Regions from separate parts of the Homo sapiens genome. Here all the other regions are linked to region 1. The links come from fine-mapping of genetic effects on gene expression. A gene starts in region 1. Each other region holds a variant in brackets. All regions are shown on one strand. Distances are between the middles of the regions.

Region 1 (4,080 bases):
TGCAAACTCTGCCTCCCGGCTTCAAGCGATTCTTGTGCCTCAGTCTCCCAAGTAGCTGAGATTACAGGTTCCCGCCACCACGTCCAGCTAATTTTTGTATTTTTAGTAGAGATGGGGTTTCGCCATGTTGGCCAGGCTGGTCTCAAACTCCTGACCTCAAGTGATTGGCCCACCTCGGCCTCCCAAAGTGCTGGGATTACAGGCGTGAGCCACTGCACCTGGCCTTTGTTTGTTTGTTTGTTTTTATTTTAGAGACAGGGTCTTGCTGTGTTGCCCAAGTTGGTGTCAAACTCCTGGCCTCAAGCAGTCCTCCTGCCTCAGCCTCCCAAAGTGCTGAGATTACAGGCATGAGCCGCCACACCCAGCCAGCATATACTATTACTGCCTGAATATGCCGCTACCTCCTGACTCCTGCCTCCTGTCGGCTACTTGAAGCTTATTCTGACTTCCTCAGACTCGGCTGGGTGACTGTCTTCTGTGATCACCATTACAGGACCGGGAATCACTGAATTGTTACTTGCCTGTCTCTCTGACTGCATTGAGCATTCAGAGGTCAGGAACCTAGTCTATTTTTTTTTTCTCTGAATCTTCATCACCTAGCACAATGTCTGTTATAGACGAACAGATCTAAACTGAATCCAGGCCCTCTCCCCCTGATTCCACCCTGTGAACAGCCAGATTCGTTCGTGGGCACAATGGGTTCACTGCTGCCTTCCTGACTTTCCTTTTTCTTTACATCCTCACCTGAAATGCTGTTCTTTCACGTCTCTGTCTCCCTTCATGTCAGTCTCACCTGTTCTTTATGGTCCAGCTCAATAAAAACCCCTACCACTTCCTGAGCCCATGCCATGTGGGCTATATTATCATAGTTCACCTTCAGCAAAACCCCTTTAAGGAAGGCATTATCCCTATTTAACAGGTGAAGAAAATGATGCAAACAGCCCTGAGGTGTTGTTCAGAGTGTGGCAGATGAGACAAGACTTGCACACAAACACCCACAATGCAGGCAACCCGGGTTGCCTCCCTGTCTGCTCTGATCTCCGGTCTTCTTTGGTCCTCTTTTCTGTACTTCTGGAAGGCACTTTGGAGATCCTTTTGTCTGCTGCTCCACTGAGAATTGAGTCAACTAAGAATTGTTTAGGGCAACACAGGTGGTTACTGGTGGAGGCCAAACCTCAAATTCAGTAGTCTAATTCGGATGCTTGACTTTATTCCACACCCAGAATATCTTGCTCAGTTTCAGTTGCAGTAACTCAAGTGATCAGGAACTGTCCAGCAGGGTTAGTGAAGTCAGCACAGGTGGGGCAGCCTCTGTCCACAGCCCTGAAGCTGCAGAATTCTGACCGTGCACGGCCTCGGAGGATTTTCATCCAGGGATTGTCAGGGGGAAGTCGCTGGAGTGTTTTAAGCATGGGAGTGTGTGGAACAGATTTGAATTTTTAAAAGTTCATTGTAGAGAATTAATTGGGGGCTGGAGTGAATGGAGTGACGATTTAAGAGATGTTCGTGGTCCCTTCAGGTGAGAGATGGTGGCAGCTCGGACCGTGTTGCCGGAACATAGACAAGTGAACTGATTGGAGAGATACCTAAGGAAATAAAATTGTTAGGATTTGTCCGTGGACTGCCTACGAAGTATGAATCTTGGCTACAGTGTGACCTTGATTAAGACACTAAAGACTTAATTTGTTCCTCATGGATAAGATGATGCTACTACTTTGAGAGGTTATTAGTAAAAAATGAAAAGCGCTGTACATGCATTAGGTATCAGTGAATGTAGTTCTAATTCCTATTATGCATATGCTTTTTTTTTTTTCGTAAAGAGCTTTTAAAATACGGAATGGGTTGGATCTGCAGTAGCTTGTCCAAGCTGGGGGCTGTATTGTTAAATTCTTTTTAGTCTAGTGCTCCACTAGCTCCTCTCCTACTGAGCTGGGGTAAGAAGCGGAGCGTATACGGAGGAGGCGGGATGCATTTCTGCATCGAGCGCACAAAGGTGTGGCGGAGGGGGCTCCAGAGCTGGGAGGGGTCAATCTACGGGCGAATCCTGGCAATTTTACTCCCCGCGATAGATGACCTCGCGTCCTAGATGAGTTTCTAGATTCTAGAATCTAGAGGACGCGGTGAACAGAGACGAGTGGGGGCAGCTTCGCGAGCGAAGCCGGATGGGGGCGGGGCGGGTAGGCCGGAGGCGCAGAGTCTCCGCCGGGACCGCGACCCCGCCCCGCTTTCCGGGGCTGCCGCTGGTGACGTCGCGAGGGGGTGGGCCCGGCGGCCACGGGGGTGGGGCCGGCCGCGGGGCGGGGCGGGGCGGGACGGGAGGCGGTGCGTCGCTGAGCGCAGGCCGCGGCGGCCGCGGAGTATCCTGGAGCTGCAGACAGTGCGGGCCTGCGCCCAGTCCCGGCTGTCCTCGCCGCGACCCCTCCTCAGCCCTGGGCGCGCGCACGCTGGGGCCCCGCGGGGCTGGCCGCCTAGCGAGCCTGCCGGTCGACCCCAGCCAGCGCAGCGACGGGGCGCTGCCTGGCCCAGGCGCACACGGAAGTGGTGAGTGTCACCGGGGGAGGTGGAGGAGCCGGGGCGGCCGCGGTCGGCAGGCGAGGGGCGCGCAGCCCGGACTGGCCGGAGGCGCGGCCACCGCTCTTGGTCGGTCCTTAGGCTGCGCGGCCCGGGCTGCTCCTGAGCGCAGCTCAGGACCCCGCGGCTCGGGCGGGGAAGGCGGGGATTTCCAGCCCCGCGGAGCCGGCGGGCGGCGAGGAGGTCGCCGGGCGGGGGCCCCCGGCCGGGAGAAGAGCGGTTAAGCCAGGCCGCCCCCTCCCCCAGCGCGCACGGCAAGTTTTCATAAACAAGCCCGGAGCGCGCTGTCTGACATCCTGTTTATACCACCCCGAGATACAGGCGCGGGCTGGAGGGCTGACGTCCCTAGCTCCTTGTACCGCGAACTTGACCGCCAGCTCCCGGCCGGGGTGGCAGCGCAGAAAGGTTTTCTTCTTCGGCCCCAGGAAGGAGGCTGAGGGTCTTAGCTTTTTTCCTTCCTTGCGGTCTCAGCGAGGGAAAGTTTCTGGGATTTGGAGCTGGGTGTTGGGCGTCCGCGAACTCGGGAAACGCCCCCTCCCCTCTTAGGTTCTGTTAGGAACCAGGCCTCAGGTAGCCAGCGAGAAGTGGGAAAGGAGACCCTGGGCGAGAGGACCAGGGAAGGGGAACAGTGGGAGAGAACTACCCGGGGAATTGCGAATCCCACTGGAAAGGGACTGATTAACCGAAACTGGGGCTGGTCTCTGGCTCCCTCACTCCAACTCCATCCGCGCATCGTCGGCGACCGGGAGCATCGGAGGACTAATAGACACTCCTCCAAAGTCACTCCCCAGGGTCCCTGGGATGTGGGCTCCTTGGATGTGTGTTTACCACGGAACTTCTAGATAAAAGATGCGATGTTTGCCAGGTGTTTGTGCACACGTTTTTTGGAGGGTTTGCACTCCATGATTTCCTGTGTGTTCCTGGGGAAGGGGACCCCGTCCTTCCTGCCACTCTTCTTACTACGTGGCTGTGAGCTGCCTTCTGCCCCTGGTTGAGTACATCGCTATACATGTCATTGACACTTTTCCCCCCAAGTCATAGGGTTTTTCTCTCACTGGCAGGAATTTACAGTGGTATAAAATTGTCATTACTTCTTTCAGGGAGTAAAACATGGGTAGTTAAGTGATGAGAATAATGCAGAGAGAGATGTAAATCAGGGCGTGTTTGGTTTTGGCTATTTTTTTATTTTTTGAAGAAAAGATTTGAGTTAAATATGGGTATAGGCACAGTAGATTTTGTTTAAGATGAGCAATTCGTATTGATTGAATCTTTGTTCTTCCCTTTCCAAAACCCCATTATGTGTTGTTTCTTGATTTTGCTTTTGGTGACTCTGATGTTTTCCAAGACCAGGGGATTATTTTCATTGAAGGATCAATGTGTTCTTTTGTACTTTGTGGTGAAGATTAATGGAGACCACCAGGGTTCCAGACATTTCTGGTACAATATGCTTTGTAATGTGGAGAAAATGTCTCCCCTGTATAGATCCAGATCACATTTAAAGATGTGAAG
Region 2 (4,000 bases), 130 kb after region 1:
CCTTATGAAACTGATTCCTACTCTACCTCCACCCACTTCCTGTTCTGATCCAATACTAGCCAGGGTATTTCATTTTCTAGTTGTCTAAATCAAAGTGGCAAGTAATATTTACTAATAATTGTATCTTATTTGCAAGCCAGCATCTACTCATGGTAGTGAAATTGACAGCTGATGATAATTTTTTTTTTTTTTTTTTTTTTTTTGAGACGGAGTCTCGCTCTGTGGCCCAGGCTGGACTGCAGTGGCGCAATCTCGGCTCACTGCAAGCTCCGCCTCCCGGGTTCACGCCATTCTCCTGCCTCAGCCTCCCGAGTAGCTGGGACTACAGGCGCCCGCCATCACGCCCGGCTAATTTTTTTGTATTTTTAGTAGAGACGGGGTTTCACCGTGTTAGCCAGGATGGTCTCGATCTCCTGACCTCGTGATCCGCCCGCCTCGGCCTCCCAAAGTGCTGGGATTACAAGCGTGAGCCACCGCGCCCAGCCCGATAATTTTTGAAAACAGTCATTTGCCTGTGGTTTACAGAGCACTCTGACTGTTATCTCAGTGAGTGCTTATGCCTGTGAGGTAGGTACACCATTGTTACCATCTCCATTCACTGCTGAGGATCTTGAGGCATAAGAGGTCAAGTAACATGCCTGTAATGAAGGGGCGAAGCTGGCGTCACCTCAGGGCCTCTGTCTCATATCCTGTGCCCTTGCCTCTCCCATGGTTCCCTCATTTGGCAGCCTCAGACTGATGGATGTTTTTTCTAAACAGGAGGAAATGGTATTAAGCTCATCATGGAATTTCTGCCTTCGGGAAGCCTTAAGGAATATCTTCCAAAGAATAAGAACAAAATAAACCTCAAACAGCAGCTAAAATATGCCGTTCAGATTTGTAAGGTAAAAAATAAAGACATCATGTTACAGATTAAGACATCAGGCACTCTGTCCTGGGTAATTGGTTTGTAATTTGACTCTAAGTGGGTAAGTTTATGATAATTATACTGTTTGTTTTTCTCTGCATTATTTAGATGAAAAGTTAGCTTCTACTAAGAAAGTAAACGGATTTAAATATGGTTATTTTAATGTGTATTTATTTGAATCAGTTTGTTCTTAATATTCTTGCATAAAAGTCAGAACCAAAAAAATTGTCAGTGATATGTGAATGAAATGACATTTCTATTTTTTCTGATGAAGTGATAGATAATACAATCTAAAGTGACTTTAGCAATGTGCTTGACTTTTACTTCTCTCTCTCAGGGGATGGACTATTTGGGTTCTCGGCAATACGTTCACCGGGACTTGGCAGCAAGAAATGTCCTTGTTGAGAGTGAACACCAAGTGAAAATTGGAGACTTCGGTTTAACCAAAGCAATTGAAACCGATAAGGAGTATTACACCGTCAAGGATGACCGGGACAGCCCTGTGTTTTGGTAACTGAATCAAACCACTAGGTTTTATCAATGCTTCATAGAGTTTACACTGTTTTAATAGGCCCTTTCTGGCTATATTAATGTGTCTCATTCCTCTGGCCTGACTCAAGGTTAGAGAAGGTTTAGAACATTTGGAATTGATTGATATTTATCTTCAAGAAACACACCTTTCAGCCTGTTTCATTGAAAGCAGCCTATATAAATGACTGAGCTTCATATGACACCGTCTTCCAAGGAATGAAAGAAATCTAACCACCAGCTCAACATTCCTAGCTT[T/C]CCAGGAGAGGGCATTCATCTGATGCAGTTCTTAAAACTGTGAGCAGGTGGAGAGAATCTAGTTCCTTTCTTAAACACATTCCTGCAGAGGGAGGCTGTAGGACAGAGTGGGCATTGCAGATTCAGGGAACTCCTGGACAGAGCAGAGCAAAACCTACGGGAGACCTGGCTGTCTCATGAATCACCAGAGGTTCCCAGGTTAGAAGGCCACACACTGGCTACAACCATGTCTCAGCCGGGAACACTGTCCAGGGGAGAGGCTGCTTACATCTCTACCGCACCCTGCCACGTAACCACATAACGACATAACCAATCAGCACTCCCCTAGGTGCATCCTACATGGACACAAACATAGACCTCTCCCACTTATGGAGCCTAAACTTACTCATTCATTCATTTAAGAAAATGCATCAAGGTCCTGCTTTGTGCCAGTACTGGAGATATGGTGAACAAGTAGGCCGAGTTTAGAGTTTAACAGGCTAGGCAGCCAACGGCATGGAGCAGGAAACATACAGAAGGGTTCGGGCTTGGTTTTCTGGAAGTCGTGAGTATTCAGAAGAAACCTGAAAGATTCATGCGGGTTTAGACAGACGGTTGCTAGACAGCATGCGTGACTAGGAAGAATGAGACAAGAGCAGTCGATTTCCCAGGAACTGAACCTCAGTGAGGTCAGATCATGGAATAGGAGGTTTGCAGGAGGAAGCTTGAGTCATGGAGCTGGGACTTCATCTCAAGAACAATGGGATGCTGCTGGAGAGTTTAAGGAGGGAGACTTTGTTTTAAAAAGACCACCACTGAATGAAGGGAACAAGATTGGAGCCAGGGAGTCTGGAGCCAGGGAGTCTGGAGCCAGGGAGTCTGATTTGGCTGCTTCAACAGCTCAGGCCAGAGCTAGTGACAGCATGAATTAGGACAGGGACTGGGAGAGTGACAGTAGGGTTTGAGAGAAGTGAGTAGGTTCAAGGAGTATATAAGGAGATTGGGTGCGGTGGAATGCCTTCATTTTTGGCTTGGGCAAGTGGGTGTCATTCAGCAAAGTAGGCAATGCTGGAAGAGGATTGGACAGCGATGCCACATTGTGCAGTGAGGCCACTGCTGTCTCATTTAGAGCCTGCAGGCAAATCAGACCTGGGGCTCATCATTACACGGCCACCTCCTCCCATACCCTGAGAGCATGTTCTCAGTGAAATGAAGAGCACAGACTTGGCGTGTTATTTTAGGGCAGATACGTGCTACCGAGAGCCTGTAAAGGATACCGTACTATAGGTCAGATGTGCACCATAGCAGCGTATACATGGTATGTGTAAAATATATAATACACAGTCAGATGCTGTATTAAATTATAAGAAAAACCGAAGAGGTGATTTTTCAGTTATCCTGTAATGTCGGATGGAGTGTGCCTCCCAGGAAATGAAGTTTTGTGTTCTGCTTCCTTTCAAGGTATGCTCCAGAATGTTTAATGCAATCTAAATTTTATATTGCCTCTGACGTCTGGTCTTTTGGAGTCACTCTGCATGAGCTGCTGACTTACTGTGATTCAGATTCTAGTCCCATGGCTGTAAGTCCTACTTTTCTCTTCATTTGAATCCAGTACCCATTTAAAATGTGTCCATCCCTCTGCTTGGTTAACTTTTGTTTTTAAATGGAATCCAATGAATGTATTATAATGGAAAATGTCACTTTCCCATTAACTTGGTTTGCTACTTGACAGTTATTTGTGAATCTCTAAAGTCTTGCTTTCACAACGAGCCCGGAGTTCTATAGGATGACCTTGACTCTCAAGGATCTTATCTGTGTAGAGATGAAGGGCAGTTTTATGGGAAAATGAGCAAGTTAAGTGGGGTAGCACTGGGTAGGGACCAGCCTTGTCTGTGCCTCCTTCATTCCTAAATCAGATCATTTTCTTGGGAACAGACTCCTTGACCAGCACAAGCACAAGGAGTGGTTGGTAGAGTCTAAGACACTGGTTAGAGACAGATCATTGAAAGCTAATAAGGATTTTGGATTTTTATTTAAAGTTACTAAGGAGAAAAGCCTTTTTATTGCTACTTAAATTTCCAGTTGATTGTAGAAATTTCACCTTAATCTGTTTGGCATTTATGTAAATACTTGCAAAGTTAAACGTTTTGTTTGATTTTATTTTATATAGTTGTTCCTGAAAATGATAGGCCCAACCCATGGCCAGATGACAGTCACAAGACTTGTGAATACGTTAAAAGAAGGAAAACGCCTGCCGTGCCCACCTAACTGTCCAGATGAGGTATCTATGGGCCACGTCACAGTAATAACACTCCATTTCTATTATGT
Region 3 (4,080 bases), 29 kb after region 1:
AACTAGTGACTCCAAACTTCTGCAAACTGTGAAACTATTGTGAACTTGTGTGAATGTATGGAAGTTGGCACTGATTAGACGTTTGAACTTCTTTCCTTGTCCTGTGTTATGCATGGTAATCTGCCATTTGCTGTTCCTAGCTGTATGGTCACCCTTAGAGGTATGAGTTGTGCTTATATGTATATGTTCATGCCTAGATCTGTTGCTCACAGAATCATCTGACATCCCCATTTCGTTGAATCTAGGCAGCAGGGTTGATGGCAGCCAGAAAAGTGTGCCCTGGGGGCAAGAATGTCTTTAGGGAAAAATATGTTATTGTCTTTCAGATAGTAGTTCTCCAAACAGTTGCTCCAACAGTTCCTATGAAAAGATTGCTTGAGCCCAGGAGTTCAAGGCAGCAGTGAGCCATGGTCATGCCATTGCACTCCAGCCTGGACAACAAAGTGAGACCCTGTCTCAAGAGAAAAGAAAAGAAAAAAATGCTAGGTGGATCTTCAGTTTAGTTCAGTTAATTAAGTATTTTAATTATTAACTATTAATTATAACATTAAGAATGCCAGGGGAGGATAGAGACCCGTGATTCTGTTTTGGGGGGCACTAGAAAACAGTTCCTGAGACACTGGTGCTGCCATCTACCTCTACCCACATCATATCCTTATGTAGACATAAAATATTAAGAGAGACTTCATGAGGAGGCATTTCTCAGTTTCTTTTGTAATGAACTCTACTTTTAGTTGAGAAACATGAAAGTGTATGGTTTGGTGTTGGAGAACGAGTTTACTTACTAGTTTGATTTACAGTGAATACTGTTCTTGGGATTTATAAATGGTTTTAGTATTGAGAAGTAGAGGAGATAAATAGTTCTGGTGTCAAGGGAAGCGGAGCAATAAAATGAAGCTGAAACATGACCATTAAGCCCAAGCCAATCAGATCATCTGTGTGCCTTAATAGAAGGCTGATGATCTTGGTTCAGGTCTTCACTTAGTTCATGTAATAACATGGAATCAAGAGTTCAGACAAGTATAAATGCTTCTGGGTCTTGTTTCCTAACTAGGCTTAGTTTATAGGCCAGAAAGATTCTGCTACTATCCTGTTATTACTGGGGCAGTCATTGAAAAGAGCCTTTCTATTATAGTGGACTGAAGACATAAAATCACACAGTACATCTAAAAGGTTTCATCAAAGTTGTTCTTTACGAAAGAGTATTTTTTTATATCTTTGTATAATTGAACTTTTTTTTAAAAAAAACTTTTTTTTTTCAGCCATGAAATTACATTCTTTCTTAGCCTTAAAGACTTTGACATTCTCCTTTGGGAGGCCGAGGTGGGCAGATCACGAGGTCAGGAGATCGAGACCATCCTGGCTAACACAGTGAAACCCCGTCTCTACTGAAAAATACAAAAAATTAGCTGGGTGTGGTGGCGGGCACCTGTAGTCATAGCTACTTGGGAGGCTGAGGCAGGAGAATGGCATGAACCCGGGAGGCAGATGTTGCACTGAGCCGAGATCGCGCCACTGCACTCCAGCCTGGGCGACAGAGTGAGACTCCCTCTCAAAAAAAAAAGAAGATTTTGACATTCTCTGTTCAAGAAACTTTTACAGTGAGAGTAATTTAGTGTATCTCAGACAATGTTGGAGTGATCGATGGTTGGGTTTCCTTGTTCCAAGGTAGAATATCAAATGTTCAGTTGACTTGTTGATGGATCAGTTTGACCTCGCTTTAAGGATATGTCTGAAAAACTGAAATAATGAGGTCAACATTTTCCAGGTTTTTTTTTGTCATTCTATGATCGACTAAGTCTGCTTTGGTTTTCAGTTACTAATCAGTGTTCCACTAATGCCTATTTAGAAACTTTATTTTGAAATAATTATAGATTGACAAGAAGTTGTAACAGAGGGCCTGTGTTGTATAATTGAAGTTTAACAGTGATACGCTCCTTTCTTTCTAGAAAGGCTTTCAATTTATGGAAAAATTAGCAAAGGTAAAAGA[T/C]GCTCGGCGTTGGACCTTTGAAACTTCTTTCGGAATTAGTATTTTGAATGACTCCATACAACTAGAATAATGGCTGAAATTTCTATGGTGCTGGTCAGGACTGTGACTGTGGCCCGAGCATGAGATGATTTTCCTGGAAACCAAAAGTACTACTAGAAGGAGAAGAATGCTGTGGAGCTCTCTGGGGGTTGGAGCTTATGCCTCTGGAGACTTTGAGTTTTCTGTGGGTGTAAGTTTTGCAAATGGTCCTGGTAGCCCTGAAGCTAGAGTTGTCAAAGTAACAGGTGGTAGCTGGGAGCCAGCTTGGCAGTGGATCAGCTACCCAAATAGCCAAAGTTGCTCAATCTACATGAGGTCCTGTAGACCAAACTGGGGGTGGGGAGGATTAGCCCCATACAAATAGTTGATCCTTTTTTTTTTTTTTTTAAACAGTCATTTGAAATATTTTCTGTAAAAGGCCTAAGCTTTAGGCATTTAGGATGATTGTAAATGCACTGCTTTGTATTCTTTTTCACATATATTTGATTTATTAATATAAAATTGCCATTTTTGTACATAAAAATGGTCAAATATTGGCAGTTTCATATGGTACAACCTACTGTTTTCTGCTGTCACATTGGAAATTCTCACCAACGTGGGATACCATGTTTCAAAGAAACGTTGGCTTAGCCTCTTCATTTATGGAAGAAATATAGCACTTATGGTGTTCTAAGTAGATTAACTAACTTAATCTTTTTACAAGCAAATGAGGTAGGTAGGTCCTAGTGTTTTCCTGCTTTTTAGGATCACAGAGCTAGTAAGTGGTGGAGCTGGGCTTACACCCTGGCTACTGGTCACAGGGCTGTGCTGTTTCTCAGCTCTTGTGTTTGGCCTCACCTCTCCAGTCATACTTGTGAAAGTCCTGGGTGTCTAGACAGGTGATGGGTGAGTGACATAAGGTACCTCTCTTTGTCTTCATGGGAGAAATAACTGGATTTCCCCAAGAATGAATTAATTCTTCCACAATACAAGAGTCTTAGAGGTTTAACAAGGATACTTCTTTCAAGGTGCCCACCAATTCCTACCTTGCATTGGAGGGTGCACTGTGTCAAATTTGTATTTTTATCTTAAATACCAAATACTCTTAGAGTCCATCCATGGGCCTGTGGAGTTGAGGGTAAATGTAGAGGCTTATTTGGCCTAATAATGAAAGTATGGATAGTTATTGCCATGGAGGAGGAGGGTGAATGTTTTGTAGAGTCCATTCCAACCTTGAAATCCTGATTCTCTGATAAACTTCCACCTCTCCTCTGTTGCTTAATCTTTGATCTTGAGCCTGGAAGGAGAGGAGGCAACTCAGTCAATGAAGGAGTTTTATTTAGTAATTGCACATTGGCCTCTTCCTGCCGGATCCCATATTGACACTGGAGTAAGGCTAGAGGCTGGGAGACAAGGCCCCATGGGAGCTTTGTGAAATGGGGAGGGGCAAGGGTGTGTCCCTGGACCGTCTGTTTGTGGGGCAGCTGTCCTAGGTGTTGAGACACACACCGGTCTGTTCTAAGATGTTCCTACTGGATCCTGTCAGTTCGCCCTCCAGCATTCCTGGATTTATTGTGCACCATTTATGGCTCCACAGTCCACTAGATGAAATTGTAAAGACTCAATATGGTGGCTCTCCAGGGACTTTCCCTTTTCTTCTCCCTTAGCATCAGAGATGACCCGTCAGCGTTGCAAGCAGTTCTGTGGTAGCACATCAAGTATTCTGTCACAGCAGGAAAGGCTGGATAAACATCAAGGGACTGCCAAGACCAGACTTCTCATTCAGTCTGAGTAGGAGGAAAGAGGACAGGTTGTTGGAGAGTTGGTTTAAAGATGAATTATGGGCTGGGTGCGGTGGCTCACGCCTGTAATCTCAGCACTTTGGGAGGCCGAGGCAGGCAGATCACGAGGTCAGGAGAGTTCGAGACCAGCCTGACCAACATGGCGAAACCCCATCTCTACTAAAAAATACAAAAATTAGCTGGGCGTGGTGGCACACGCCTGTAATCCCAGCTACTCAGGAGGCTGAGGCAGGAGAATCGCTTGAACCCGGGAGGCGGAGGTTGCAGTGA
Region 4 (4,080 bases), 200 kb after region 1:
ATACACCATGGAATACTATGCAGCCATAAAAAAGGATGAGTTCATGTCCTTTGCAGGGACATGGATGAAGCTGGAAACCATCATTCTCAGCAAACACAAGAATAGAAAACCAAACACCACATGTTCTCACTGATAAGTGGGAGCTGAACAATGAGAACAAATGGACACAGGGAGGGGAACATCACACACTGGGGCCTGTCGGGGGGTGTAGCGGGGGAGGGATAGCATTAGGAGAAATACCTAATGTAGATGACGGGTTGATGGGTGCAGCAAACCACCATGGCACATGTATATCTATGTAACAAACCTGCACGTTCTGCACATTTACCCCAGAACTTTAAGTATATTAAAAAAAAATCCTAATACTTCTCATCTTCCTTTATTCCCTATTTTAGCTGGTCACACAACACCCAGAAATTGGAAACCTGGGAATTAACCTAGACTCTGTCTCCCTCATTTCCCATATAAAAGGAATCCTCAAATTCCACCCGTCTAATAGGTCTTGAATCCATCCCCCTTTCTTCAGTCCTCTAGCTTTTTCTTTTTTTAATCCTTTCTCCACAGTGACAATAAAGTGATCTCTAAAAAACAGAAGTTTAATTGTGCCTGTTTACTGCCTTAAATGCAAAGGTTTGCTATTACTCACAAAAAAAGCCAAGTGCCAGATTGGTAATCATGCTCTACAATGCCTGCTATATCTAACTCCAGCCTTGTTAACTGCCATACTTCCTCCCTTCCCCAACAGCTCTTTATTCTCCAAGAACACTGAAATATTTGTAGCTCCCTGTAGAGATCCAGTTATTTCAGGTATCCATATATTACACATTTAATTCCCTTGCCTATAAGATCACTCCCCATACCTTAGGATACCTAGAACCTTTTAGCTGATTTTCAAATTCGTCCATGCATTACTCCATCATGATCTCCAGGAAGCTTCCCTGATCCTCTCTTAGAGTTAACCATTCTTTATTTTTTTATACCTCTCTATCTTGAACATTGCTCGGATTATTGCATAGATCACATCACATCGTAATCTATTTGCTTAGATGCCTGCTACCCTACTAAACTGTGAGCTCCCTAATTCCACCAACTATCATGGTGCATGACATATGGTAGAAGCTTTGTGTTAGATGAATGAATAAATAAATGCATATATAAATCAACTAATAATTTAAAAACTGAAAATCTCTTTGTCCTTTTCTTAGGTATCTGCATTTGCTCAACTTAGGTTTTATGGAAGAATTTAAATAACATAATGAAACAAATTTAAAAGTTCAGACAGTAGGGAAAGGAGGTCACATTTTCTGTTCTATAGCTTCTTCCATGTTTTTCCAAGGCCACGAATTCTCTAAAATAATAAAAAATAAAAAAATTCACATACTAGTTCTCATAGAAATGGTAGATGTCACTCTACAGAGAAAAGGCTGTAAGGGAATTTGGGATTAATTACATTACCATTTTCCTTGTGAAATTTAAATATCCCACAATTGATCCCAATTCTTTTAAAAGTCATTGCATGGTCTACTATTTAGTTTATTATTGGGTCTAATTTGAAGGCAAGCATGTGCCAAAACTTTTTCCCCTAATGTATCCTATTTTACTATAATAATTTCCTCATATCTACCATAGGAAGCTCTGGTTGCAAGGTTATAGTTAAGAATTGCATCTTTTATCAACTGAGTTATTAATTATATCTGTTTCCACGAACACCACTATAGGTTCCAAAATCCAAGGCAAAATCATTTAATACAATTAATGATTTCTGTGTTGTGTGATTTTAACAGGTGATTTAAGGTTTACAGTATACATCTTTAACTTATCACAGTCAATTGTCAAACGGTATCACACCACTTCATGTACTGTATAAGAGACTTCAAACAGTGCAATCCCATTTCTCCTCTCCCAGCCTTTGTATTATTGCTGTTACACATTTTATTTCTACATGTGTTACAAATCTCACAATGTAATGTCATTATTTTTGCTTTTAACAGTCAATTATACTTTTAAAAGATTTCAATATTAAGAAAAAAGTCTTTACCCACGTAATGACCATATCACGTATTCATCATTTTGTTGGGTAGGTCCAGATTTCCATCTATAATTTTCTTCCTGCTTGTAGGACTTCCTTAAGTATTTCTTATAGTGCAAGTCTAATGGTGATGATTCTTTTAACTTTTGTATGACTGAAAAACATCTCTATTTCATCACTGTTTTTGAAAGATATTTTCAATAGGTTAAGAATTCTATGTGGACCTGTTGTGTTTTTGTTTATTTTGGTAAAGAATGAAAAGATGTTACCCTACAGTCTTTTCAATTGTGTTGTTTCCAA[GATCTAT/T]GGTCATCTTAATCTTTGTCCCGCTAAATGTATTAATGATGTATACTTTTTTTCTGGCTGCTTTTAAGACATTCTATCACTAACTGTAAGCAATTTGATTACAACGTACACTGTAGTTTTCCTCATGCTTTTGTACTTGAAGTTGGTTGAGCTCTGTGGATTTCTGGGATTAGAATTTTCATCAAAATTTTAAAACTTTTCAGCTACTAATTCTTTAATTTTTTTTTAACTATTCCTACCCCCAGGGACTCTAATTGCTCTTGAAGCTGTCCCACAGTTCACTGATACTCTGTTCATGTTTTACAGTCTTTTTTCTCTCTGTGTTTCATTTTGGATCACTTACATCATTGTTTTCAAGTTCACTAATTTTTTCTTCCACAGTGTCTATTCTGCCATTAATCCTATCCAGTGTATTTCATGTCAGATGTTGTAATTTTCATCTCCAGATGTTTGATTTGGATATTTTATATCTTCCAAGTCTCTATTTACCATGTTCAATCTTTACTATAACTTACTATATATATGGAACACTATTATAAAAACTGGTTTAATGTCCATTTTTATTAATTCATCTGTGTCAATTCTAGGCCAGTTGTGATTGATTTTTGTCCTCGTTATACATTAGGTTTTCCTGCTTCTTCATCATGTCTGCTACTTTTTTATTGGATGTCTGACATCATAAATTTCACTTTGTTGGGTGTCAGATGTTTTGGATGCATACAAATATTCTTGAGTTTTGTTCCAGGATGTGGTTAAGTTATGAGGAAGCACTTTGATCCGTTCTGGTCTTGTTTTTAAGTTTTGTTAGGTAGGACAAGAGCATCATTGGTCTTGAGTTACTTTTCCCCATTCCTGAGCAAAAACTTTCTGATTATTACTTCTAATGCCCCATGAATTATGAGGTTTATCATCCTGACTAGTGGGAATAGCACTATTCCTGGCTCTATGTGAGCTGTGAAGGCTGTTACCTCTAATCCCGTTGTCAATATCTGTAACATTGAAATTGTGCACACCTATGACTCAGAGCTTCAGTTATGGAGAAACAGTTGAAATGTATATTAGTAATCAACTAAAAGGCTATTCATTGCATCACTGTTTGAAATACTGGGAAAGGTAAAGCTTCCTGAATGCCAGTCAGTAACAAATACATTAATCGTAATAAATTCACATGATAATTACATGTAGTAGCTTAAATCAATGAACCTGAGTTATATATATCAATGTGGAAAGATCTGAAAAACAATGTTGCGTTAACCCAAAAAAAGCAAGTTGCTAAATGAAATATACATTAGAATGCCATTTATGAAAAGTTTAAAACAGAGACTACCATTAATTATATATAGGCACATATGGTAAAATTATAGGTTAGTCAAGATACTGTGGTAACAAACTTCTGCACAATCTCAATGGCATAACAAAACAAAAGGCTTTCTTCTGATTCATGCTGCATATCCCATGCTGAAGGTAAGGAAGGAAGGACGTTTTGCTCATTATAGTCACTCTGAGACCTAGGTTGAAAGAGGTTCTGTTACTTCCCCAATTACTTTAGCACAGGGAAGTGTGAGCAGGAAATCACATGCTGGCTCTGAAATCTTTCACCTGGAAGGGATACATGTCATTTTCACTCTCACTTCATTCATCAACAAGCAAATCACAAGTCCACTCTCAACTTCAAAGAGGCACAGGTAAGTACTATCTTACCTTGTGCTCAGAAGAAAAAGAACAAGAATTTGTGAACAGCTTTA
Region 5 (4,080 bases), 150 kb before region 1:
AAAGACTTAAATGTTAGACCGAAAACCATAAAAACCCTAGAAGAAAACCTAGGCAATACCATTCAGGACATAGGCATGGGCAAAGACTTCATGACTAAAACACCAAAAACAATGGCAACAAAAGCCAAAATTGACAAATGGGATCTAATTAAACTAAAGAGCTTCTGCACAGCAAAAGAAACCACCATCAGAGTGGACAGGCAACCTACAGAATGGGAGAAAATTTTTGCAATCTACCCATCTGACAAAGGGCTAATACCCAGAATCTACAAAGAACTTAAACAAATTTACAAGAAAAAATCAAACAACCCCATCAAAAAGTGGCAAAGGATATGAACAGATACTTCTCAAAAGAAGACATTTATGCAGCCAACAGACACATGAAAAAATGCTCTTCATCATTGGTCATCAGAGAAATGCAAATCAAAACCACAATGAGATACCATCTCATACCAGTTAGAATGGCGATCATTAAAAAGGAAACAACAGGTGCTGGAGAGGATGTGGAGAAATGGGAACACTTTTACACTGTTGGTGGGAGTGTAAACTAGTTCAACCATTGTGGAAGACAATGTGGTGATTCCTCAAGGATCTAGAACTAGAAATACCATTCAACCCAGCGATCCCATTACTGGGTATATACCCAGAGGATTATAAATCATGCTACTGTAAAGACACATGCACACATATGTTTGTTGTGGCACTATTCACAATAGCAAAGACTTGGAACCAACCCAAATGTCCATCAATGATAGACTGGATTAAGAAAATGTGGCACATATACACCATGGAATACTATGCAGCCATAAAAAAGGATGAGTTCATGTCCTTTGCAGGGACATGGATGAAGCTGGAAACCATCATTCTGAGCAAACTATCGCAAGGACAGAAAACCAAACACTGCATGTTCTCACTCATAGGTGGGAACTGAACAATGAGAACACTTGGACACAGGGCAGGGAACATCACACACCAGGGCCTGTTGTGGGGTGGGGGATTGGGGGAGGGATAGCATTAGGAGAAATACCTAATGTAAATGACGAGTTAATGGGTACAGCAAACCAACATGGCACATGTATACATATGTAACGAACCTGCACGTTGTGCACATGTACCCTGGAACTTAAAGTATAATAATAATTAAATAAATAAATAAATAAAAGAATCACATAGTTGGCCGGGGAACAGTGGCTCACGCGGGTAATCCCAGCACTTTGGGAGGCCGAGGTATGGCGGATCACAAGGTCAAGAGATGGAGACCATCCTGGCCAACATGGTGAAACCCCATCTCTACTAAAAATACAAAAATTAGCTGGGCGTGGTGGTATGTGCCTGTAGTCCCAGCTACTTGGGAGGCTGAGGCAGAAGAATCGCCTGAACCCTGAAGGTGGAGACTGCAGTGAGTCGAGATCACGCCACTACACTCCAGCCTGGTGACACAGTGAGACTCCGTCTCAAAAAAAAAAAAAAAAAAAAAAAAAGCCGGGCGCGGTGGCTCACGCCTGTAATCCCAGCACTTTGGGAGGCCGAGGCGGGCGGATCACGAGGTCAGGAGATGGAGACCATCCTGGCTAACACGGTGAAACCCCGTCTCTACTAAAAAGACAAAAAAATTAGCTGGGCGTGGTGGCGGGCGTCTGTAGTCCCAGCTACTCAGAGAGGCTGAGGCAGGAGAATGGCGTGAACCCGGGAGGCGGAGCTTGCAGTGAGCCGAGTTCGCGCCACTACACTCCAGCCTGGGCGACAGAGCGAGACTCCCTCTCAAAAAACAAAAACAAAAACAAAACAAACAAAAAGCAAAAAACAAAACAAAAGAATCACATAGTTATATGTCATCAAAAATAATTTTAATGATCTACTGTCAACCTTAATTAAGATTTCCTTCAGTTTTGTTGAAAACAAAATATTAGAAACCACCTGACTTACAAAAAGGCATTGATACCCAGTTATTAGAGTTACTCAGTTCTCAACGCCATCATCAATATTTCTAATTGCCTCTTTGTTTGGATATTTTTACCCCAGAGCAATGCACCAAAGTAAGCTTGAGATGGATGGAGTGCACATCTTTCTT[T/C]GCTTGAAGTAGTAGGTGGGTAGGAAGGTAGGAACAAAGGACCTGCATCTCCCTCAGTCCACTTTGTTAGGCAGATCAATTTAGGACCAGCACATATGGAAGCTCAGGATCCGAAAATTTTTATTTCTTTAAAACTATTTGTCTTAGTCCATTAGGGCTGCTATAACAAAATACTGTAGACTGGGTGGCTTATACATAACAGAAATGTATTTCTCATAGTTCTGAAGTCTTGGAAGTCCAAGATCACAGCCCCAGCAGAATTGGTGTCTGTGAATGCCAGTTTCCTGGTTCATAGATAGCACCTTCTAGCTGTGTCTTCCTGTGGTAGAAGATGTGAACGAGCTTCCTCAGGCATCTTTTATAAGGGCACTAATCCCACTCGAAAGGGCTCTGCCCTCATAACCTAATCGCCTCCCAAAGGGTCCCATCTCTTAATACTATCATCTTGGAAGTTAAGATTTCAATATATCCTTTAAGGGGGCATGAACATTCAGACCATAGTATTATCCTCACCTGCATCCCTCTTGGAAGTCTTCCTGACTCAGAGGAGGGTGTACACATATCCCCGTTAGAAGGCTGTTGTCTCTTTATATTTTATCTGGAGTTGTCAGGACTAGAAATAATAGATGTTGGCCGGGCACGGTGGCACACGCCTGTAATCCCAGAACTTTGGGAGGCCGAGGTGGGTGGATCACCTGAAGTCAAGAGTTCGAGACCAGTCTGGCCAACATGGTGAGATTCTGTCTCTACTAAAAACACAAAAATTAGCCAGGTGTGGTGGCAGACGCCTGTAATCCCAGCTACTTGGGAGGCTGAGGCACAAGAATTGCTTGAACCCGGGAGGAAGAAGTTGCAGTGAGCCAAAATCGCACCATTGCACTCCAGCCTAGGTGACAGAGCGAGACTCCGTCCCCCACCCACCAAAAAAAGAAAAAGAAAAAAAGAGAAATAATAGATGTTTAGTGCATAAAGCACACACATTATAACATCTAGTTATCCTGACTTTTAATTTTCTACTAACCTAGTTACTTAGAGTAGTAAGGAATCGGGAGCTGGGACTAGATCCATCCAGCAGGGATGACCAAGCCTTGTGGATTGACACAAATGCACATTCAGATAGAAGGAACATGGTCTGGCCATCAAAACAGTGTCCCCAAGGACTGAAAAAAAAAGGACTGAGACAAAATAGAATCAGGCAAAAGATCTCAGGACTGAGGCAGACGTCCTACCCACCAGGTAAGAAGATAATAAAGAACAGGACTCAAGAGTGGTGGTAACCAACTATGGAGAGGTCTACCAAAGCGCACAAGGGAAGTTACATAACTTCTGAATCAGAAGAATGCAGTTTGAGCCTCACCTCTGCAACCTACTTATTGACTGCATGAATTGTCGAATTGTCTCCTCAGCTCAGTTTTGTTTGTTTGTTTGTTTGTTTTTGTGAGACGGAGTCTTCCTCTGTCGCCCAGGCAGGAGTACAGGGGTGCGATCTTGGATCACTGCAACCTTCGCCTCCCGGGTTCAGGTGATTCTTCCGCCTCAGCCTCCTGAGTAGCTGGGATTACAGGCGCCCGCCACCACGCCCAGCTAATTTTTGTATTTTTAGAAGAGACGAGGTTTCACCATGTTGGCCAGGCTGGTCTTGAACTCCTGGCCTCAGGTGATCTTCCTGCCTCGGCATCCCAAAGTGCTGGGATTACAGGAGTGAGCCACTGTGCCCGGCCAGCCCAGTTTTCTTGAAGGTCAAATGGTAGTCTTGCATAGTTATAGTTTGGATTAAATACGATGGTGACATAGTGCCTGGCATGTAATAAGTACTCAGTAAGTGGTAGCCACTTAAATAGGAAACTACTGAACTACCCACATCTCCCAAACTTACCTACATCACAGTCCCTCTTATGCCATTCTTCTTCCTCTTGCTGGAAGAGAAGTCCCTGGTGGAAGAGAAGAATGGATCCACCACTGCTTTGAATCCTCACCTCTCAGTTATGTCCTCCTTTGTTTCTTCCACT
Region 6 (4,080 bases), 40 kb after region 1:
TGGGGGTGAAGTGACTTTCCAAATGTAATTCCAGAAGTTACTGGGAAAGCCAAGAGGAAGAGTTCTTGGGTCTCTTTATGCTCCTCTAAGCTATTTTTCTCTGCTGAGCAGTTAGGACTCCTGGAGGGGGCAGGAAGCTGTGTGCTCAAGTGACATCCTTTCTTTAGTTTTGTGTGTGCATATTTGTGTAGGCACATGAATGCACTCTTGTATACCTACTAGGTGCAGTGAGAGCTGGCTTCAGGGAGAAAGGGAAATGCGTGATTTTGGGGTCCCCAGCCTGAGCCTACTTTTTCTCGCAGTATTCTTTGTTCTGGAATCTTTCTCATCACCTTTTATTGCATGGAAACTTAATCTATTCAGGTCCCAACTTTCAGGCTTCTCTGCTCTGACAAGTACTAGAGGCCAATATGATAGACTAGTCTGAGTTAAAAGGTGGCAGTGAAGGAACCAGCTACCCCTCCCTGTTTTTGTATTATCATAAGCACCTCATGGCATAGAATGCTTTCACCCCAAGCGGCTGTTTCAGGGGCACTGGCAGGTTTGGAGGGGCATTGTGTTTTGAATAGTCAGTGCCTTTTGTGCCATTAAACTCCCATGGTAGAGAGACCCAGCCTTAAGAAATAAGACTGACCCTCCATAGGGCTGCTGCTAGTCTATATATTGTCTTTGTGAAAATTAGAAAACAGCATCTTGTCTGAGTGGGGTAGCCCTGCACCAGAGAGTGTGGCCTGGCTAGTAAAAGGCAGATTGGATTTCAGCCATCACTTTCTTACCTCAGTTGGGCATTCTTGGCAGTGCCCAACCTGCCCAACCATATGCTGTAGTCCTGATTCTACCTGCTATCTTCCAGCCAAATACAGGGGCTTTGTATTCTTTTGCATTATACAGATGTGTTCATTGTGGCTGCTTAATAGACGTTTGAGTTGATCGATACTCATCGTTGACCAAATAGAGAGAATGGCACTTTGCAGGATGTTTATTTCCTGCTGTCCCCATAGCAGCAGCAACCATCAGCAACCTGTTACCTTAAGGATTCTATAGTTCATTCATTTATTAATTCAACAGCTACTTCTTAAATACCTATAATGTAAAAGGAGACAGGGTACCAAGCTACAAAGAGCACCATCTTTGGAGTCAAATCTGGGTTTGAAGTTTGTCTTTTCTGTTGATTGTCTGTGTAATATTTGACAAATTATTAAACTTTCTGAGCCTCATTTATTCGTTCATTTGCCCACTTATTCAACAGATATTTATTGAGCATTTCCCTTGGCTGGATGAAGATGGAAAAAAAAGGAAGACAGACGCAGTTCTTTCCCTCATCTCTAGTGAGGATGTGGACACAAAACAAATACATGGATCAACACATAACAATTCTAGGCTGTCATAAGTGCCCTGAGGAAAAGAAACAAGGATGTGCTAAAATGAATAGGACCTGGGGAGTGGGGGGAGGGGACACGGGAGACCGTGCCAGAGAGACAGAGCTCTTTCTTAATAGGGTCGTCAGGGTACGCCCATCAGAGGTGAGCACATAAGCAGACCCAAAGAATGGTGAGGACCTGGCCTGCAGAGAGCAGTCAGGGCTGAAGAGTCAGCTTGGACAAAGGTGGGAAGTAGTTGGTATATTTGAGGACATAAAAATATGGACTTGGGGCATAATGGAAGACAAGGTTGGAAACAGTGATGATGATAACAGTAGCAAGCACTTGTTTAGTTCCTGCTATGTCCAGACACTGTGCTGAGTGCCTTCACATACATTAACTCTTCTAATGCTGACCAAAATACTACGGAGCATGTGTTACGATCATTGTTTTACAGATGAAGAAATTGAGGCACAGATGGGATAAATAACTTACCCAGGATTTCCCAGCTGGCACGTGGTAGAGCTGGGATTCAAACACACGTGTTCTGGTTCCAGACTGTGCTTATATCTGCTATGCTGTAGTGCCAGTGAAGGCTGGGTCATGCCAGACCTCAGTTTCGTCATCAGTAAAATGGAACTAATATGTGGATTAAACAAAATGTGTATAGAATGGCAGCCACATCAAGTCATAAGCATTCATCAGGTGGACTGTATATCTAGTGGTGGTGGTGGTTGTGGTCAGCATTGTAGGAAAATACAGGGGTGCATTAGGAAGTAACCCTCTAGGGAAGGGCCGTGTATACTGATAATCGTTAATGTAAGGAGGACAGGGGTAAGGGCCCTGAGGAAAGTGTGTGCATGAACAGTGCTGCGATGGCTCTGAAGTGGGTCAGTTTGTTCCACCTGGGCAGTGTGGAGCCACTTGGGGGTGGGGGGAGGGGATCCTGCTGTTGAGTCTGG[A/G]AAAATGGGCAGGAGTCACATATACTGGAGCAGGTAGGAGGAGCATTTCCTCTGCACCATCAGGTGAGCAAAGATCTAGTGTGTACTCAGAGTTGGAAAGTGGGGTCTGGAGACAATAGCACTGGCCGTAGGAGAGAGGCAGGAACTGGAGTGAAGATAGGTTAGAGCCAGCACTCACTGGGGCTTGATGCCATTGCGAAGCTTTCAGTTTATGCATCAGGGAATGTGTGGTCCTGGGGTCCACAGCTTGGTTTAAAGATCTAATTTGGGTATCTTCTCAGCTTTCTGTGACTCTGGCTGAGCAGCAGAGAGGAATTTTGTTTTGGCTTTTATTTGATATGCTATCTGTCATCTACCTAAAGGAGCCTGCCCACCTCCTGGGTTCATACAGAGGAGAGGTACCACTATAGTGGGAAGCTTTATGACCCCACTCCTCCAGACAGGTGGTTTTATAGGTGATTGCAAATAACTGGCACAGGCTTGGAGCTAGACAGATCTGGGCTGTATAATCTGGGCTTTAACAGCATTTGACCTTGGGTCTTGTGTTTGGGCCTCATTTAGTTCCCTGTAAAGTAGGGATTTATACCATGTCTCATTGTTATATAAAGGTCAAATAAGTGCATGACACTATGTGCCTGAAGAACATGGTAAGTGCTCAGATGATGTTAGTCGGAATTACTAGATTGCATGGTGTGGAAGGCCCAGTTACCCACAGGAAGTCAGTTTGAACCGACTAATTGTCTTCTCCCATATTTTTGAGGTCAGGAAGCCTAATCAGTTGGCAGGACTCATTGGAGCCACATTGAGATGGATTTTAAAGTCATTCCCAGGCTCTGTGGGACATCAGGCCATGATGTATACACAGTTTTCTTCTTCTTGTTTTATTTTTCCTTAAGGCTTTATTTTCTTAAAGCAGTTTTAGGTTTAGAGCAAAAATTTTTTTTTTTGAGACAGAGTTTCCCTCTTGTCTCCCAGGCTGGTGTGCAATGGTGCAATCTTGGCTCACTTCCTGGGTTCAAGCGATTCCTCTGCCTCAGACTCCTAAGTAGCTGGCATTACAGGTGTGCGCCACCACACCCTGCTAACTTTTTGTATTTTTTTTTTTTTTTAGTAGAGATGGTGTTTCACTGTGTTAGTCAGGCTGGTCTTGAACTCTTGACCTCAGGTGATCCGCCCGCCTCAGCCTCCCAAAGTGCTGGGATTACAGGCATGAGCCACTGCGCCCAGCCTAGAGCAAAATTAAGAGGAAGGTACAGATCTCACACTTGCATAACCTCCCTCATAACCAACATTTCCCACCAGAATGGTACATTTGTTGCACTTGATGAACCTACACTGACATCATTATCACCCAAAGTCCATAGTTTAGATTAGGGTCCACTCTTGGAGTTGTGCATTCTATGGGTTTGGACAAATGTATGATGACATGTACCCATCATTGTATCACACAGAGTATTTTCACTGCCCTAAAAATCCTCTGTGCTTTGCCTGTTCAGCCCCTGCTGACCATGTGTATTTGCTGTCCTGGTTTTAGATCATCATTATGGGGTTGGAAAAATAGCATCCTATAAAGGTGTTTGTGGCTTTAAGTGAATGTCAGCAGTTCTACAGTCCTGTCCAGTAGATGCCATCTTTCAATTTGCTGAAGATACTGATTCTGTTTTTCTGTTACTTCAGAACAAACAGAGGAATTTTAGAAGAACTACCACCCACTTCCTCAGACTTACTGAGCACCTGCTTAGGAGCCACACATAGTT
Region 7 (4,080 bases), 140 kb after region 1:
GCATTTCAAACAATTTGCTTACATAGAAAAATAACAGTATAGTTTTGGGGGGAGGAAGGGGTGGGTTACGGTCCTTACTACTAACAAACAAACAAACACCACTTGATTTGCACTTCTTCACTGTTGTGCCCAGTGATTGATAACGGGGCACAGGCCAGTATGGATGGCATGTCCACTGTGCTGTAGTCCAGACACCTTTGTTTGTTTGTTTTAGTTCCTTCAACCTCTTCCTGCTTTGACTGACTGACTTTTTGCAGCTCTGTTGCAAAATTCACCATCTTTCCTTTCTTCTGTTTGTTTGTTTGTTTGTACTATAGTGGAGGTGTGACTAAGCATTGAAGAGGCTGAATGCAACAGGAAAATGGGAAAGAGAAGTGCAGGGCCTGAAAAACCCATTAGTCATCTGCTATATCACTGAATGATGCCTAATTCTTATCAGTTACTTATAGGTAGTATACTTAGAAATTACCTTAAACTTTCTAGCTGTCAGTCATTTTCCAACAGAAGCTAGTATATGCAATAAATTAGACCAAGTGAAATTCTTTACAAAGCATACAACATATGTACCAATTCTAGACTTCATAATTAAAACAGGATATCCACATCATAGTTAAAAATAACAAGTCCCCAAAGTGACGAGATATTTAATGATCTGATTTCAAAAAGCCCCGGATTGAGATCCCAAATTCCCTATCAATTAATTACAGTCTTATAACATAAACAAACTTAGAAATTTCTAGATGGCAAAAGGTTTCTCATGCATTTAATACCAAGGTCTTCAAGAAATGGTGATGTCAAAAGTCATCATAGTCCATAAAGATAAAACTTCTTTCACAAGTAAATTGGGTTAAATAACTGATTTTTCACCCTAACACACTATCAAAAAGAGTGAGAGAGAAAGCAGAGAGTGAGGTATAGCTTATTAGCTCAAAATGGTTATAAATACTGTGACTCCTTAAGACTCCATCAGAAAGTGCAGTATTGACTGCTTTACTATACTATATTGTGGAAATAATAGGGCATTTAGTGATCAAAATAGGCCCCATTCTAGTCATTAGATCATTACTAGTCTACGCTATGAAATGAGCACAGAAACCCATGTTCCTTTCCACTTACAAGTCTGTCTAAAGGCTAAAGGTCTGTCTTTAGGTGAATTGAAAGGAATAGTTGCTATTAGAATTAGTGCTATTAGATCAGGGATCAGCAAACTATATATAAATGGCCAGATACTTGAAATTTTAGGCCATATGGTCTTTGTAGGCCATACAGTCTCTGTTGAAGCTAATCAGTTCTGCCCTTGTAGCGTAAGAGTGCCACAGACAACACGTAAATGAATGAGCATGGCAACGTCCCAATAAAAGTTTATTTATGGACACTGAAATCTGAATTTCATATAAATTTCATGTCATAAGTTTTCTTTTTTCCTCCAACCATTTAAAAATGTAAACATTAGTCTTAGCTTGCAGGCAGCACAAAAGCGGGTGGTAGACCAAATGTGGACCCAGGGTGTAGTTTGCCAAACCCTTTTATTAGATCACCAAAGTTACTTTTCTTAAAATACCTTCTATTTTTCACAGAAGGTATAAATGGTAAACAACATCTTAAAGCATCGGTAGTAGTGGATACCTTGGA[T/C]ATCACTGTCACTCTCTTACCGGGTTTAATTTTGCATGGCTGGTGTGGGCGTAATTGAGTGTGCATGTAGAGCATCTTTATAATATTACCATCAGCACATTTGGTACTTGCACCCTTGTAGTTCTAGGAAAAGTCCTAAAAATCTATAAATGCAATTACTTCTAGGGAAAGTAAATTGAAATGCACATTGGCTTATAAGAAACTCATTCTTCTAAGGCTCAGGAAACAACACTGTTTCCCATTTATTGCTTCAAACTTCTTTTATATATGGTGTCAGAATTATTCCCAGTCCTAAATCAAGGAATATTGGAACATTGTTAGTTTCTCCAATGGATTGTAAGTTAGCACACTGATTAAGATGCATCTGACTCTAGTGGAAAATGTCCTCAATTGATGTCTCTTCTTATTGCTATTTTTTATTTGGCATTTCTGCCTGCTGCACAACACAGTTCCTTCTGGGAAACTATAAACCCGTATTTAAAGGATATGGCTAGTTTGAATGAAGTTAAGGCAGCGATGAACAGCAGAGATACTGCAGAGAACCTTAGGGGGTTATTAGGAGAGAGCTTAACTCAGTATACTCGCTTCTTTTTTAAGTAAGTTTCCATGTAATATGCTCCTGTGCCCTGAGAATGCTGGTCAACACATTCCACTGAACCACCTTCTGGGGCAGAGATGAGATATGATGAGCCTCGCTTTTCATTTCTTAAAGATGACACCTATGAGAAAATAAAATTGCAGCTAGTTTTAAAATCTAAAGTTGGCTTATTCATTAAAGATATTTATAAGAAAAGCATTCCACTTTGACTTGGTGAATATAGAATAACAGGATAAATACCCAAACTATCAAAAAATACACAAACCCCTTTGTTAAATAAGACTTTTAAATTTCTGTATCAACATCGCCTTTGGAATTTCTGCAAGACACAAACCAGTCTCAGCACCTTCACTCCCAACCCCAACTTTTTGGGAAAAGAAAAAATTAGAGCACTGCATGCAGCTGCTTCTGCTGATCACAGCTAGTTAAACCCACGGACTCAGAATATCAACACCGAATGTCAGTATTCCTCTGAAGGAGGAGTGGCTAAGACATCAAGCTGCATATTGAATTAGATGTTAAGTGTGCCTGGTGACAAGAGGAGTGGTGAGAGAATAAATCAATAGGTGTAGAAACTGACAAATGACATCAAAGAAAACAACATGAAACATTCTAGAGAGCAATGGGAAACTCAGAGCTTTGGTCTCCACAATAATCGCCTGGCGAGCATATTAAAATGCAGGTTTTCAGGCACCATCCCAGAGATTCTGACCTGAAAGTGGGCCACATGTCCTCACAAGTGGTCACAGTGATCAGCACAGTAAATCAGATGGTGTAGCACTGCTCAGCTTAATGCCTCTTAGTTTCAGCTTTTACAAAAATAAGTGCAGCAAGCTTTTATCAATGCAGAATTATGTGACTTAATATGCAAGAACTTAGAAATGACTGATGAGTAAAGCTTCCAGTAACACACAGGAGCCTTCTCACGTTGCAATTAAAACTGCAATTGTTTTTGAACCAACAACGGTCACAATTTTTAAAAGTGCAGCCAGCCTCAGAGGGAACAGATGATAGGTCTCTCTCAACTCCTTGCTAAAGTAGTTCTCAGTGGTCCATGTTAGAGGGATGACAAGACTGAAAGAACGCTGCGTCCTCTGGTATCTCATTTCAAAGTGGCTTACTGTGGGGACAGACCAATACAAAGCGTCTTCACACAAGCCCAGTGTAAAGGAATGTTTCACAGAGTGAAGCTGATGGGCAAAGAATCTGGCTTGAATTTCTGCCTCGACATTTTTTTCCTGGTAGTAAAGTATGTCTGGGGTTTGTGCTAGAATGTTAGAAGGGAAGCAGGTGAGAGGGTAGATGAAAGGAGACCTGCCGTAAGTTGATAGTTGTCAAAGCTGAGTTGATGGTGACGAGGGGTTCAGCCCTAGAGAAGGGCTGCTGCACCAAACAGCTTGCTCACCTCTTAGGTGGAGCCTCTGCCCCAAAAACCCTTCCTCCCAGTCTCCAGCCTCTTGGTTATTCTCTCCAGCTGCCTTCTTCATTAGGGCCCCTTCGCTGGTAGGTGATCTTTCTGAATGTTGGACCCCAGCCACTAACACCATCAGACCTTACTTCAGGTATAAAGAACTCTTTTTAGCAGCTTTCCTCCTCTTAGAAGTCATCAGTCCATTCTACAAGTGAGATTTTCCAAAGACTGGGGGAGGGAAGCAGACTGCTCACTCTGGGATCTGGGATGCTCCTGCTCTTCTCACCCACCTTCCCCAATTCTTCTTGCCATGTAGTTATCTATTCTTTCATGTCTTGGCATGCAGCAAAGCAACAGCCTGGGTTTCTGTCTTTCTATACCATCTTCACTGTCAGAAGCCAGATAGGAAATTTATTACATTCTTTTATTCAAAGGGCTT

Which allele goes with the higher level. Alleles are on the strand shown, and positions count from the first base shown. SD is a standard deviation of normalised expression in the study named. Not every link is listed here.
For the expression in thyroid of the gene that starts at base 2,325 in region 1, allele T in region 3 goes with a lower level than allele C (small effect, 0.33 SD a copy in GTEx).

The links. PIP is the estimated chance that this variant, and not a neighbour inherited with it, causes the effect.
Region 2: its variant is the best candidate, but not a certain one, in a credible set for the expression of JAK1 in whole blood (INTERVAL, PIP 0.71).
Region 3: its variant is the best candidate, but not a certain one, in a credible set for the expression of JAK1 in thyroid (GTEx, PIP 0.58).
Region 4: its variant is the best candidate, but not a certain one, in a credible set for the expression of JAK1 in blood mononuclear cells (TOPMed, PIP 0.58).
Region 5: its variant is the best candidate, but not a certain one, in a credible set for the expression of JAK1 in neutrophils (BLUEPRINT, PIP 0.89).
Region 6: its variant is the best candidate, but not a certain one, in a credible set for the expression of JAK1 in cerebellar hemisphere (GTEx, PIP 0.56).
Region 7: its variant is the best candidate, but not a certain one, in a credible set for the expression of JAK1 in whole blood (INTERVAL, PIP 0.76).

What each region holds. Positions count from the first base shown.
Region 1 is chr1:64,964,794-64,968,873 of GRCh38, reverse strand. It overlaps JAK1 (Janus kinase 1), which reads left to right and starts at 2,325. Exons shown (of 25, transcript NM_002227.4): 1 at 2,325-2,541. RefSeq lists a silencer at 2,101-2,980.
Region 2 is chr1:64,835,349-64,839,348 of GRCh38, reverse strand. It overlaps JAK1 (Janus kinase 1), which reads left to right. Exons shown (of 25, transcript NM_002227.4): 21 at 760-884; 22 at 1,245-1,417; 23 at 3,134-3,251; 24 at 3,843-3,953. Among named protein-coding and RNA genes, the nearest start is that of RAVER2, 92 kb to the right of the region's middle. The variant T/C (reference allele first, on the strand shown) is at 1,694.
Region 3 is chr1:64,935,372-64,939,451 of GRCh38, reverse strand. All of the region lies in intron 1 of JAK1 (Janus kinase 1), which reads left to right. Among named protein-coding and RNA genes, the nearest start is that of JAK1, 29 kb to the left of the region's middle. The variant T/C (reference allele first, on the strand shown) is at 1,991.
Region 4 is chr1:64,769,469-64,773,548 of GRCh38, reverse strand. The region is part of intron 2 of RAVER2 (ribonucleoprotein, PTB binding 2); the gene reads right to left. Among named protein-coding and RNA genes, the nearest start is that of RAVER2, 26 kb to the right of the region's middle. The variant GATCTAT/T (reference allele first, on the strand shown) is at 2,330.
Region 5 is chr1:65,119,235-65,123,314 of GRCh38, reverse strand. No RefSeq gene overlaps it. Among named protein-coding and RNA genes, the nearest start is that of AK4, 27 kb to the left of the region's middle. The variant T/C (reference allele first, on the strand shown) is at 2,072.
Region 6 is chr1:64,924,587-64,928,666 of GRCh38, reverse strand. The region is part of intron 1 of JAK1 (Janus kinase 1); the gene reads left to right. Among named protein-coding and RNA genes, the nearest start is that of JAK1, 40 kb to the left of the region's middle. The variant A/G (reference allele first, on the strand shown) is at 2,324.
Region 7 is chr1:64,829,110-64,833,189 of GRCh38, reverse strand. RAVER2 (ribonucleoprotein, PTB binding 2) reads right to left here. Exons shown (of 12, transcript NM_001366165.2): 12 at 1-2,351. The coding sequence ends at 2,205. Among named protein-coding and RNA genes, the nearest start is that of RAVER2, 86 kb to the right of the region's middle. The variant T/C (reference allele first, on the strand shown) is at 1,633.